2 separate regions of the Homo sapiens genome follow, and region 1 is linked to region 2. Evidence: fine-mapped expression QTL. A gene starts in region 2. The other region holds a variant in brackets. All regions are shown on one strand. Distances are between the middles of the regions.

What was found.
Region 1: its variant is fine-mapped to the expression of IL2RG in coronary artery (GTEx, PIP above 0.99).

Annotation. Positions count from the first base shown.
Region 1 is chrX:71,224,196-71,229,544 of GRCh38, forward strand. It overlaps GJB1 (gap junction protein beta 1), which reads left to right. Exons shown (of 2, transcript NM_000166.6): 2 at 1-1,321. The coding sequence ends at 364. Among named protein-coding and RNA genes, the nearest start is that of GJB1, 3.6 kb to the left of the region's middle. The variant ACAATCT/A (reference allele first, on the strand shown) is at 2,055.
Region 2 is chrX:71,109,324-71,114,663 of GRCh38, forward strand. IL2RG (interleukin 2 receptor subunit gamma) reads right to left here and starts at 2,254. Exons shown (of 8, transcript NM_000206.3): 1 at 2,102-2,254; 2 at 1,574-1,727; 3 at 1,181-1,365; 4 at 833-972; 5 at 1-67. The coding sequence starts at 2,216. RefSeq lists enhancers at 1,715-2,914, 2,017-2,406.

The sequences.
Region 1 (5,349 bases), 110 kb after region 2:
GCGGCTGGTCAAGTGCGACGTCTACCCCTGCCCCAACACAGTGGACTGCTTCGTGTCCCGCCCCACCGAGAAAACCGTCTTCACCGTCTTCATGCTAGCTGCCTCTGGCATCTGCATCATCCTCAATGTGGCCGAGGTGGTGTACCTCATCATCCGGGCCTGTGCCCGCCGAGCCCAGCGCCGCTCCAATCCACCTTCCCGCAAGGGCTCGGGCTTCGGCCACCGCCTCTCACCTGAATACAAGCAGAATGAGATCAACAAGCTGCTGAGTGAGCAGGATGGCTCCCTGAAAGACATACTGCGCCGCAGCCCTGGCACCGGGGCTGGGCTGGCTGAAAAGAGCGACCGCTGCTCGGCCTGCTGATGCCACATACCAGGCAACCTCCCATCCCACCCCCGACCCTGCCCTGGGCGAGCCCCTCCTTCTCCCCTGCCGGTGCACAGGCCTCTGCCTGCTGGGGATTACTCGATCAAAACCTTCCTTCCCTGGCTACTTCCCTTCCTCCCGGGGCCTTCCTTTTGAGGAGCTGGAGGGGTGGGGAGCTAGAGGCCACCTATGCCAGTGCTCAAGGTTACTGGGAGTGTGGGCTGCCCTTGTTGCCTGCACCCTTCCCTCTTCCCTCTCCCTCTCTCTGGGACCACTGGGTACAAGAGATGGGATGCTCCGACAGCGTCTCCAATTATGAAACTAATCTTAACCCTGTGCTGTCAGATACCCTGTTTCTGGAGTCACATCAGTGAGGAGGGATGTGGGTAAGAGGAGCAGAGGGCAGGGGTGCTGTGGACATGTGGGTGGAGAAGGGAGGGTGGCCAGCACTAGTAAAGGAGGAATAGTGCTTGCTGGCCACAAGGAAAAGGAGGAGGTGTCTGGGGTGAGGGAGTTAGGGAGAGAGAAGCAGGCAGATAAGTTGGAGCAGGGGTTGGTCAAGGCCACCTCTGCCTCTAGTCCCCAAGGCCTCTCTCTGCCTGAAATGTTACACATTAAACAGGATTTTACAGTAAATGAAGAGGTGGCTTGTGTGTTTGTCAAGTTCTTTCTCCTGCAACCTCTGACCTCCCCCAGGATGAGCTGGCCTTGGTTTTTTACTGATTAAGAAAGGAACAGGGCAAAAGAAGTAGTTACTTGAGTAGCTGAAGCTGCAAATGAGGAAATCACTGTACTTCTGGGCCGCAGAGCCAGCCCCGGAGCCATTCCTCCCTGTTGCTTTTGTTGTTGTGGTTCTTGTCTTTTTCATTGTCTAATAACAGCTTTATTGGGATTTAGTTTACATACCTCCTTCCTCTGATTTTGAAAAGATTAAAAATGACAACTCCCTCTGAAGAGACAAGAAATGATTGGGAAATTTCTCCTGCCCCAGAGAGTGGCACAATTCCCTGGGTACCTCGGTGAGAGCCCCTCCCCCGCACATCTGGAGACCTATCTCCTTACTCCCTCCAAACTCAGCATCCCCTACAAGCTGATGTCCCACAGTCCACCTGTTGGGTTGCACGATGACCCTGACCCCTTTCAGCTGGACAGAGCCCCTAATTTCATCCTCTTTCCCAGTTTCCTTCTCTCAGGAATCAATGCTTCCCACTCCAGAGATGCCTCCACACAGGTCAAACATTTCATAGCAGCAGTTTCCTCACCAGCATCACCCTCCCCTGTCAGCTGTGGTAGGAAATGCCCCAGGCTGAGACTTGGAAAAGCTGCGCTGGAGTCCTGATGCTGTCACTTAGTAGCGGGGCATTCCCTTCCCCGAACCTCAGCTTCCTTATGAGCAAACGAGAACTGGCCCAGCACATCTCTCAGCTCCCTTCAACACTCTGTGCTTCTGGGATTCCTGAAAGATTTCCCCAAGTAACAGTGCATTATCTTCCCCCAGCCTCACAGGGGTTTCCTTAGAGTCACTGCCCCCACAAATAGCCTCTCAGAGTAAAAGTTTCCCCCATGGCAAGTTTGCCTCCTCAGCTTCCTTACCTCCGAACAGGAGAAATTATTTGCCACTCCCTCTCAGAGTATGTGGACTCCATGTAGGAAGTGCTGGATATCAGAAAGGGAGAGAAAATCAGAC[ACAATCT/A]CATGTGAATTGTTCTCCCTTGAGACAGTTTTTCCTCTTTGGAGAGAAAGCATGGAAGTTTTCTTTATTTGAGATTTCTCCTTTAGAAAAAAAAAAAAGGAAGACTGGATGTGGTGGCTCATGCCTGTAGTCCCAGCACTTTGGAAGGCCAAGGGGAGAGAATCACTTGAGCCCATGAGTTTGAGACCAGTCTGAGCAACATAGAGAGACCCCATCTCTACAAAAAAAATAAAATAAAACAATTAGTCAGGTGTGGTGGCATGTGCCTGTAGTCCCAAGCTATTTCGGATGCTGAGGTGGGAGGATAACTCGAGCCCAGGAGGAGGTTGAGGCTGCAGTCAGCTGTGATCACGCCACTGCACTCCAGCCCGGGCCAGAGAGTGAGACCTTGTCAAGAAAGAAACAAAGAAAGAAAAGGAAGGAAGGAAGGAAGGGAGGGAGGGAGAGAGGGAGGGAGGGAGGGAAGGAAATGAGACCTTTAGAGGCCGAAGCAAGAGGATTGCATGAGGCCAGGAGTTCAAGACTAGCCTGGACAGCATAGCAAGATCCTATCTCTATTTTTTTTTTTTTTGAGACGGAGTCTCGCTCTGTCACCCAGGCTGGAGTACAGTGGCGCGATCTCGGCTCACTGCAAGCTCCACCTCCCGGGTTCACGCTGTTCTCCTGCCTCAGCCTCCCGAGTAGCTGGGACAATAGGCGCCCGCCACCACGCCCGGCTAATTTTTTTTTGTATTTTTAGTAGAGACGGGGTTTCACTGTGTTAGCCAGGATGGTCTCAATCTCCTGACCTCGTGATCTGCCCGCCTCGGCCTCCCAAAGAGCTGGGATTACAGGTGTGAGCAACCGCGCCCGGCCTCCCATCTCTATTTTTAAAAAATTGAAAGAAAGAAAGGAGAGAGTAAGTATTCCTTTCCACCACACTTAGTAATCCCTGAGAGAGAGCTTCCTCTCCCTTAAAAGAGGAACATTCCTTTCCTACAAGAAATTTCCTTTCCCCTTAGAAACTGACATTATGTTCCATCAGAGGAGAGGTCCCCACCCCCTCACGGTGAGAGAGATTCCTTTTCTTATCGAAATCCATCCTTTTCACCCACAACAATACAACAAACACATCCCCTCTCCATACAACATGCCATCAGGAGAAAGATTTTCTTTTTAAAATTCCATCCTGGTCCTGGTCGGAAGCAGGGAACCTCATGCCCTCTCCACATTGAGAAATGCTAACCCCCACCATCACATCAGAAATGTAGTTTCTCTTCAAAGATTCTACCAATCCCCCTTGGAAAGAGGCTCCAACTCTATATCAAGGCTTTCCTCTCCAGGGGGCAGTGGTGGGACAATAAAGCTATCAGGCTGGGTGTTACAGCCCAAGTGGGGGACACAGGATTCTTGGGTCCCATGAACCAGGTAGGAACAGGCCCAAGGAACCTTGAGGGGAGCTGGTGGACACAATGTCTCAGGGAGGTAGGAGGCAGAGTTAGACTGACTCCAAGACTGACTTTTCAAATCAGGCTCTGTCACAAGAGTATAAGAGAGAGACACAGAGGCAAATGAGGCATGCTCTCTGCCACGCAGTAGAAATTCAATGTGCTGAGTGACCTGGGTTATGAAGAGGACACTGGAATTAGGAGACCTCGTTCTCCACTGATGAGCTCTGTCCCCTTGGACACGTGATATTTACCCTCTCCAGGTCTGTTTCCTCATCTCCAATAGAGAGTTAATAATAACCTCTCTACCTCTTTCACAGAACTTTTTTGAGAATCAGACAAGATGTGTTCAAAAGCTGGTTATGAACTAACGGTAAAGTAAGGTAAGATAGTATCATAAGCACTGAGACCATGGCCTTACGACATGCTAGAATTCTCAATGAGCCAGAAAGGAGTGAGGCTGGTTCAGGTAGGCTGAAGCTAGTTAAAACAATTTGGCAATAATAGTGTTGGCTCCCCCAGGGAGTGGACACCAGTCCAAACAGCAAAGTCCAAGAGAGGTTGCAAACCTGAGCATGATTCATTTAAGGGTCAATATTCAAGGGGTCTGATCAGGGGGCAGAAAAGGCATAGTAACAGGAAGCTCTTGCATGCTGTATCTCATGGAACTGGTCCTTTTAGGAATGTCTATGATCTTTTAGAGGTGTCTATGCACAGAGATGCCAGGAGCTGGGGGGCAAAGGAACAGAGGCAGATGAACTAGGAGAGTAATCAAGGCCTCCAGCCAGCTGAGTTGGGGTTTGAAAGCAAGCTGTGGTATCCATAGAGAATTGGCATGGCAACCACAAACTGGTTCAGATGTTCAATCAGATAGCCTGGGTGCACACAGTGGGGGCTAGAGGGGAATGCTTGCTCCATTTACTGATTCCAAAGTACTTAAATGCCAGACCTGGCCTATGGTGCAGAAGGGGCTACACAATCGTACCAAGCTAAGCTCCTGTTGATTCCTGGAGTAGGCCAGGGAGAATGTACAGGGTCAAATGGAAAATGGATTGGGACATTCCAGCAAGGGGCAAATAAAACAGACAAAAAATACCCTACAGATATGACAGGAATTGGCTGGGCACAGTGGCTGTTGCCTGTAATCCCAGCAATTTGGGAAGCCAAAGCAGGCAGATCACTTGAAGCCAGGAGTTCGAGACCATCCTGGCCAACATGGTGAAACACTGTCTCTACTAAAAATACAAAAATTAGCCAGGCGTGGTGGCACATGCCCATAGTCCCAGCTACTCAGGAGGCTGAGGTGGGAGAATTGCTTGAATCCGGGAGGTGGAGGTTGCAGTGAGCCGAGATCGCGCCACTGCACTCCAGCCTGAGTGACAGAGTGAGTGAGACTCCATCACAAAAAAAAAAAAAAAAAAAAAAAAAAGCCAGGCACGGTGGCTCACGCCTGTAATCCCAGCACTTTGGGAGGCCGAGGCAGGTGGATCACTTGAGGTCAGGAGTTTGAGACCAGCCTGGCCAACATGGTGAAACCCCGTCTCTACCAAAAATACAAAAATTAGCCCCGTGTGGTGGCGCACGCCTGTAATCTCAGCTACTTGGGAGGCTGAGGCATAAGAATCGCTTGAACCTGGGAGGCAGAGGTTGCAATGAGCCGAGATCATGCCACTGCACTCCAGCCTGGGTGACAGAGCGACTCTGTCTCAAAAAAAAAAAAAAGGTATGACGGGGGTGATACCTTCAAACTTGTGTGTTTGGAAGGTCAGCCAGCAGCTGCATGGAGACTGGATTGGGGATTGAAGACTGAGACAGATTGACCAGGTACTGCCAGGTGCAGTGGCACACCTGTGGTCCCACCT
Region 2 (5,340 bases):
ACGTGTAGCGTTTCTGCCCATCCACACTAGGCAAGGAGAACTTATGTCTATAATCCACTGATTGTTCCTTGAGGAGAAAGAGGATGAGGGAAAGTGGGTGTCTATGAGAGAAGGGAGAATTAAAACATACTCCTGAACACCCACCAGTGTCATCTCTGCTACTGCCCAGTTTCTCTCTCATCTCTTGACTACTCAAGCCACACTGCTCCCTTCACTGACTTGAATCTAATGCCTCCCCTCTGGATCCCCTTAATGGCTTCCTTTTGTTTACTTGTCTATCTGGTATCAGGAAGAGTATGGGTAGGGAATCCCTAATGAAAACTCACTGGTGTCAGGAATGGTGGCTCACGCCTGTAATCCCAGCACTTTGGGAGGCCGAGGTGGGCAGATCACCTGAGGTCAGGAGTTCAAGACCAGCCTGACCAACATGGCAAAACCCTGTCTTTACTAAAAATACAAAAATTAGCCAGGCATGGTTGTGCATGCTCCCAGCTACTTGGGAGGCTGAAGCAGGAGAATCACTTGAACCAGGGAGACAGAGGTCGCAGTGAGCCCAAGATCGCCCCACTGCACTCAAGCCTGGGCAACAGAGTGAGGCTCTGTCTCAAAAAAAAAAAAAAAAGAAAGAAAGAAAGAAAAGAAAAGAAAAAAAGAAAACTCACTGGAGAAAATAGGGGGGAAAGGAGTTGGAGGAGGGAGGGTAGGGGGTGAGCAGAGAAGCTGGGAGGCAGAGAACAGGAGCTTGATATTAGGTCCTTCTATCTGTCTGGTTGAATCCTTTAGCCCTACTTTCTTGGCCTTAGCTGCTACATTCACGTCCCTAGTCACTCACAGTCCAGCTGTGGTCCCAGTCAGTCCGGTACTGCACCAAGTGCTCCAAACAGTGGTTCAAGAATCTGTTGTTCCAGTTCAGTTCTAGCTGGGATTCACTCAGTTTGTGAAGTGTTAGGTTCTCTGGAGCCCAGGGGATCACTGGAGATATGTGTGCATATGTGGTCATTCCCCTGGCCTAGACAAGTCAGGATCCTGAAGGTAGTGCCCCTAATACCTCCTCCCTTCCCATCATGATCCCCTACCTCCTCTTTTCTGCCCATGTACCCTTATGATAAAAGAACACTACTCTGTAGACTCCAATGTCCCACAGTATCCCTGGTCTCTTGACCCTTTCTTTCCAAATTACCCAGATTCTGCAGTTTTAGCATCTGTGTGGCCTGTCTCCTGGGTTCCCGTGGGTCCTGGAGCTGAACAACAAATGTTTGGTAGAGGTGGATCTCCTTTTTTTGCAACTGACAGCCAGAAGTGATTTCTTCAGAGAATAGATAGTGGCTGCACTTCTGGACTTTATCATTATCCGAGTTCTTGTACCTAGAGGAGAAAGGTTGGAAGGAAGAGGAACAGTGGGGCCAATCTGGGTACTGCAGATATCCAGAGCCTAGCCTCATCTCCCCTCAACCGACTTATGACTTACCCCAGGAGAAAACAGTGGGGTACCTGGGAGACTTGCTACCCTCTCTCTTGGTCTCTGATCCAACCCACCTCTTCTTCATCCCCTCCCCCTCGTCCCTTCTCATACCAATAATGCAGAGTGAGGTTGGTAGGCTGGGGCTCAGAGCTGCTGTTCCAAGTGCAATTCATGTACTCGACATTGAACACAAAACACTGAACCTCTGGGAGGGGCAGAGTGGAAACACTGAGGGAGTCAGTGGGCATAGTGGTCAGGAAGAAATCTAGATTGGGGAGAAAATGAAGGCAGGGAGGGAAAGAGAAATGATGGTCAGAAGGAGGAGGCCAAGCACGGTGGCTCATGTCTGTAATCCTGGTGCTTTGAAAGGCTGAGGCAGGAGGATCACTAGAGGCCAGGAGTTTGAGACCAGCCTAGGCAACATAGTGAGACCCTGCCTCAAAAGAAAGAAAGAAACAAACAAACAAGAAAGAAAGAAGAAGTAGCGTGAGGCAGGGAACCCTCCCCCTTGCCCTTCCCACTCCACTTTTCAATTCTGCCCACATGATTGTAATGGCCAGTGGCAGGCACCAGATCTCTGTACGGCCCCTTCCCACAGCCACCCTTCTCACCAGCCCCCTCCAGTCCCAGATTTCCCACCAGCTGTGGTGTCTTCATTCCCATTGGGCGTCAGAATTGTCGTGTTCAGCCCCACTCCCAGCAGGGGCAGCTGCAGGAATAAGAGGGATGTGAATGGTAATGATGGCTTCAACATGGCGCTTGCTCTTCATTCCCTGGGTGTAGTCTGTCTGTGTCAGGAACCTGGGTCCCTCACCCACTACCCCTCCCCACCCACACGTTTCCTCTGTCATAGCTTCCGGTGGAAAGAACCTTATAAACCAGGGCTTTACAGAGGGTGTGGCAAATATGTGCTGTGTGACACGGGCTAAGTCCTCTAGGAGATTAGGTGCTGCTGTAAGGTGGTAAACAGAAACTAAAGCTGGATATACAATAGTGTCACAGACTCAAAAATCCTCAGCCCACCTAGATCCTGGGAAGGATCTGTTCACTACCACTAGCACCATTCTCAACCACCTTCTCCTCTAAATCATTACCTTCTATAATGGAAGTTCTGAACCCCCACCCCCGACATCACCGTTCTATGCCATGCCTCTTCCTTGACTTGGTCACCCTTAAATCTCTGTCAAAGCTCTACTGTTTTGGGAGGATGGAAAATACCGTCTTGGCTCCTGTGGGCACATATACAGCTGTCTTTCCTCTGATCTAATCCAAACCAGAATACCCACCCTTAGCTGCTGCCTGAGCTGGGTCCCTGTTGAGACTGGCGAGGAAGTGTGACTTATAATACAAAAATATTCTAGAAATGGAGGAACAACAATACTAGCTTCAAGCTTCCCATCTTCCCCCAACTCTGCTTCTCTTCCTGCCTTCCCCACCTCAGTCAATGGTATCGTCACCCTCTCAGTCACCCAGACTTGAAACCTCAGAATCAGCTTCAATTTCTCCCCCTCTCTCACCCAGAGAATATAACCCACTCTGCTTCTGTGGTGTTTCTCCCAACGGTTTCCTCCTTTCCATTACCACAGCCACTCTGCTAAATCAGTCTTTCATTAGCTCTAGTCATGATTCTATCTAGACTCCATCAACTGGCCTCCCTTTCTAAAGGCCCTCTGCTCTCTAATCCATTCTTCATCCTGTTGCCAGTTTTACCTTCCCCGAAAACACAGAGGTGATTGGAGAAGCCACTTACAGAAACTATTTATTCAGCAAACATTTATTACGTTTTTAATATGTGCCAGGCACTGTGCTTATGTTCTGGAAATAGACCAACAAGACATCCTCATATTTCTAGACACTCACAGAAAAGTGGGGAAGACATAAACAAGTAATACAACATAGTGTAACAAGTCCTATAGCATAAATGTAGAGATACTACAAAGTATGTGAGCACAGAAGAGGAAGTAACTAAATTTACCAAGATGGAGAGGGGGATAGTTTAGTGAAGGCTGTGCTGAAGAGGTGCTATTTCAGTGGCATCTTAAAGAATGAGTGTAATTTTACCAGACAGAAAGTGGTGTAGGATATTAAGCAAAGAAAAACAGCACTTGCCTGGGAGTCTCAGGAAAACTGGACTATATGGCCCAGCTTAGTATTTAGTATGTATCTTTAGTATGTATTAGTTTGCTAGGGCTGCCATAAGTTATCCCCAAACTGAGTGGCTTAAACCAACAGAAATTTATTCTCTCGGCTGGGTGCAGTGACTCACGCCTGCAATCCCAGCACTTTGGGAGGCCAAGGCAGGTGGATTGCTTGAGGAGTTCGAGACCAGCCTGGCCAACCTGGTGAAACCCCGTCTCTACTAAAAATACAAAAATTAGCCAGACATGGTGGCAACACCTGTAATCCCAGCTACTCGGGAGGCTGAAACATGAGAATCGCTTGAATCTAGGAGGCAGAGGTTGCAGTGAGCCAAAATTGCGCCACTGCACTCTAGCCTGTGCAACAGAGTGAGACTCCATCTCAAATAAATAAATAAATAAATAAATAAAAATTTTTTAAAAAGGAAAAAAAGGCATTTATTTTCTCACAGTTCTGGAGCCCAGAAGTCCGAAATCAGTGTGGCCAGGGTTGGTCCCTTCTGGAGGCGCTGAGGAAGAAGTTGTTCCATGCCTCTCTTCTAGCTTCTGGTGGCTGCCGTCGATCCTTGGTGCTCCTTGGCTTGTAGACACATCATTCCAATCTCTGCCTCCATCTTTGCATTACCTCTTCTTCTTCTCTGCATCTCCTTTATCCTTCTCTTCTCTTACAGGGACACCTGTCATTGGATTTATGGCCCACCCTAATCCAGGGTGTTCTCTCCTAGGAGCTTTGCCTTAATTACAGCTGCTAAAAGCCTTTTGTCAAAGAAGGTGACATCCACAGGTTCCAAGTGAACATATCTTTTTGGAGGCCACATTCAACCCACTACAGAGGGCATTCTCCAATTTAAAAGTCTTCAAAAGCTACTCATGGCCTTCAGAATAAAGCCCAAGCTCCAATGATCAATTCCAGCCACACTGGATATGTCATACGCATTTCCTTTCTCTGGAATTAGCCTCTTCCTAACTTTCTGTAGGCTAAAATCCTTCAGAAGGCAAAACCCCATCTCTACAAAAATACAAAAATTAGCCACGTTTGGTAGCACTCACCTGTAGTCCCAGCTACTCAGGTGGCTGAGGCACAAGAATCACTTGAACCCAGGAGGCAGAGGTTGCAGTGAACTGAGATCGCACACTGCACTCCAGCCAGAGTGACAGAGCAAGACTCTGCCTAAAAAATAAAATAAATAAAATAAATAAATCCTTCAGGGCTACATGCCTATTAGAATAGCCAAAATGGGCTGGGCAAGGTGGCTCACACCTTGCCTGAAATCCCAGCACTTTGGGAGGCTGAGGCGAGTGGGTTGCTTGAGCCCAGGAGTTGGAGACCAGCCTGGGCAACACAGCAAGATCCCATCTCTTGTTTAAAAAAAAAAAAAAAAAAAAAAGAGGCCGGGCATGGTGGCTCATGCCTGTAATCCCAGCACTTTGGAAGGCCAAGGTGAGTGGATCATTTGAGGTCAGGAGTTCAAGACCAGCCTGGCCTACATGGTGAAACCCCGTCTCTACTAAAAAATACAAAAATTAGCCAGGCAATAGTGGCGCATTCCTGTAATCCCAGCTACTTGAGAGGCTAAGGCAGGAGAACTGCTTGAGCCTGGGAGGCGGAGGTTGCAGTGAGCTGAGATTGCACCACTGCACTCCAGTCTGGGTGACAGAGTGAGACCCTGTCTCAAAAAAAAAAAAAAAAATTGCCCAAATCCGGAACACGGACTACACCAAATGCTGGCAAGGATGTGG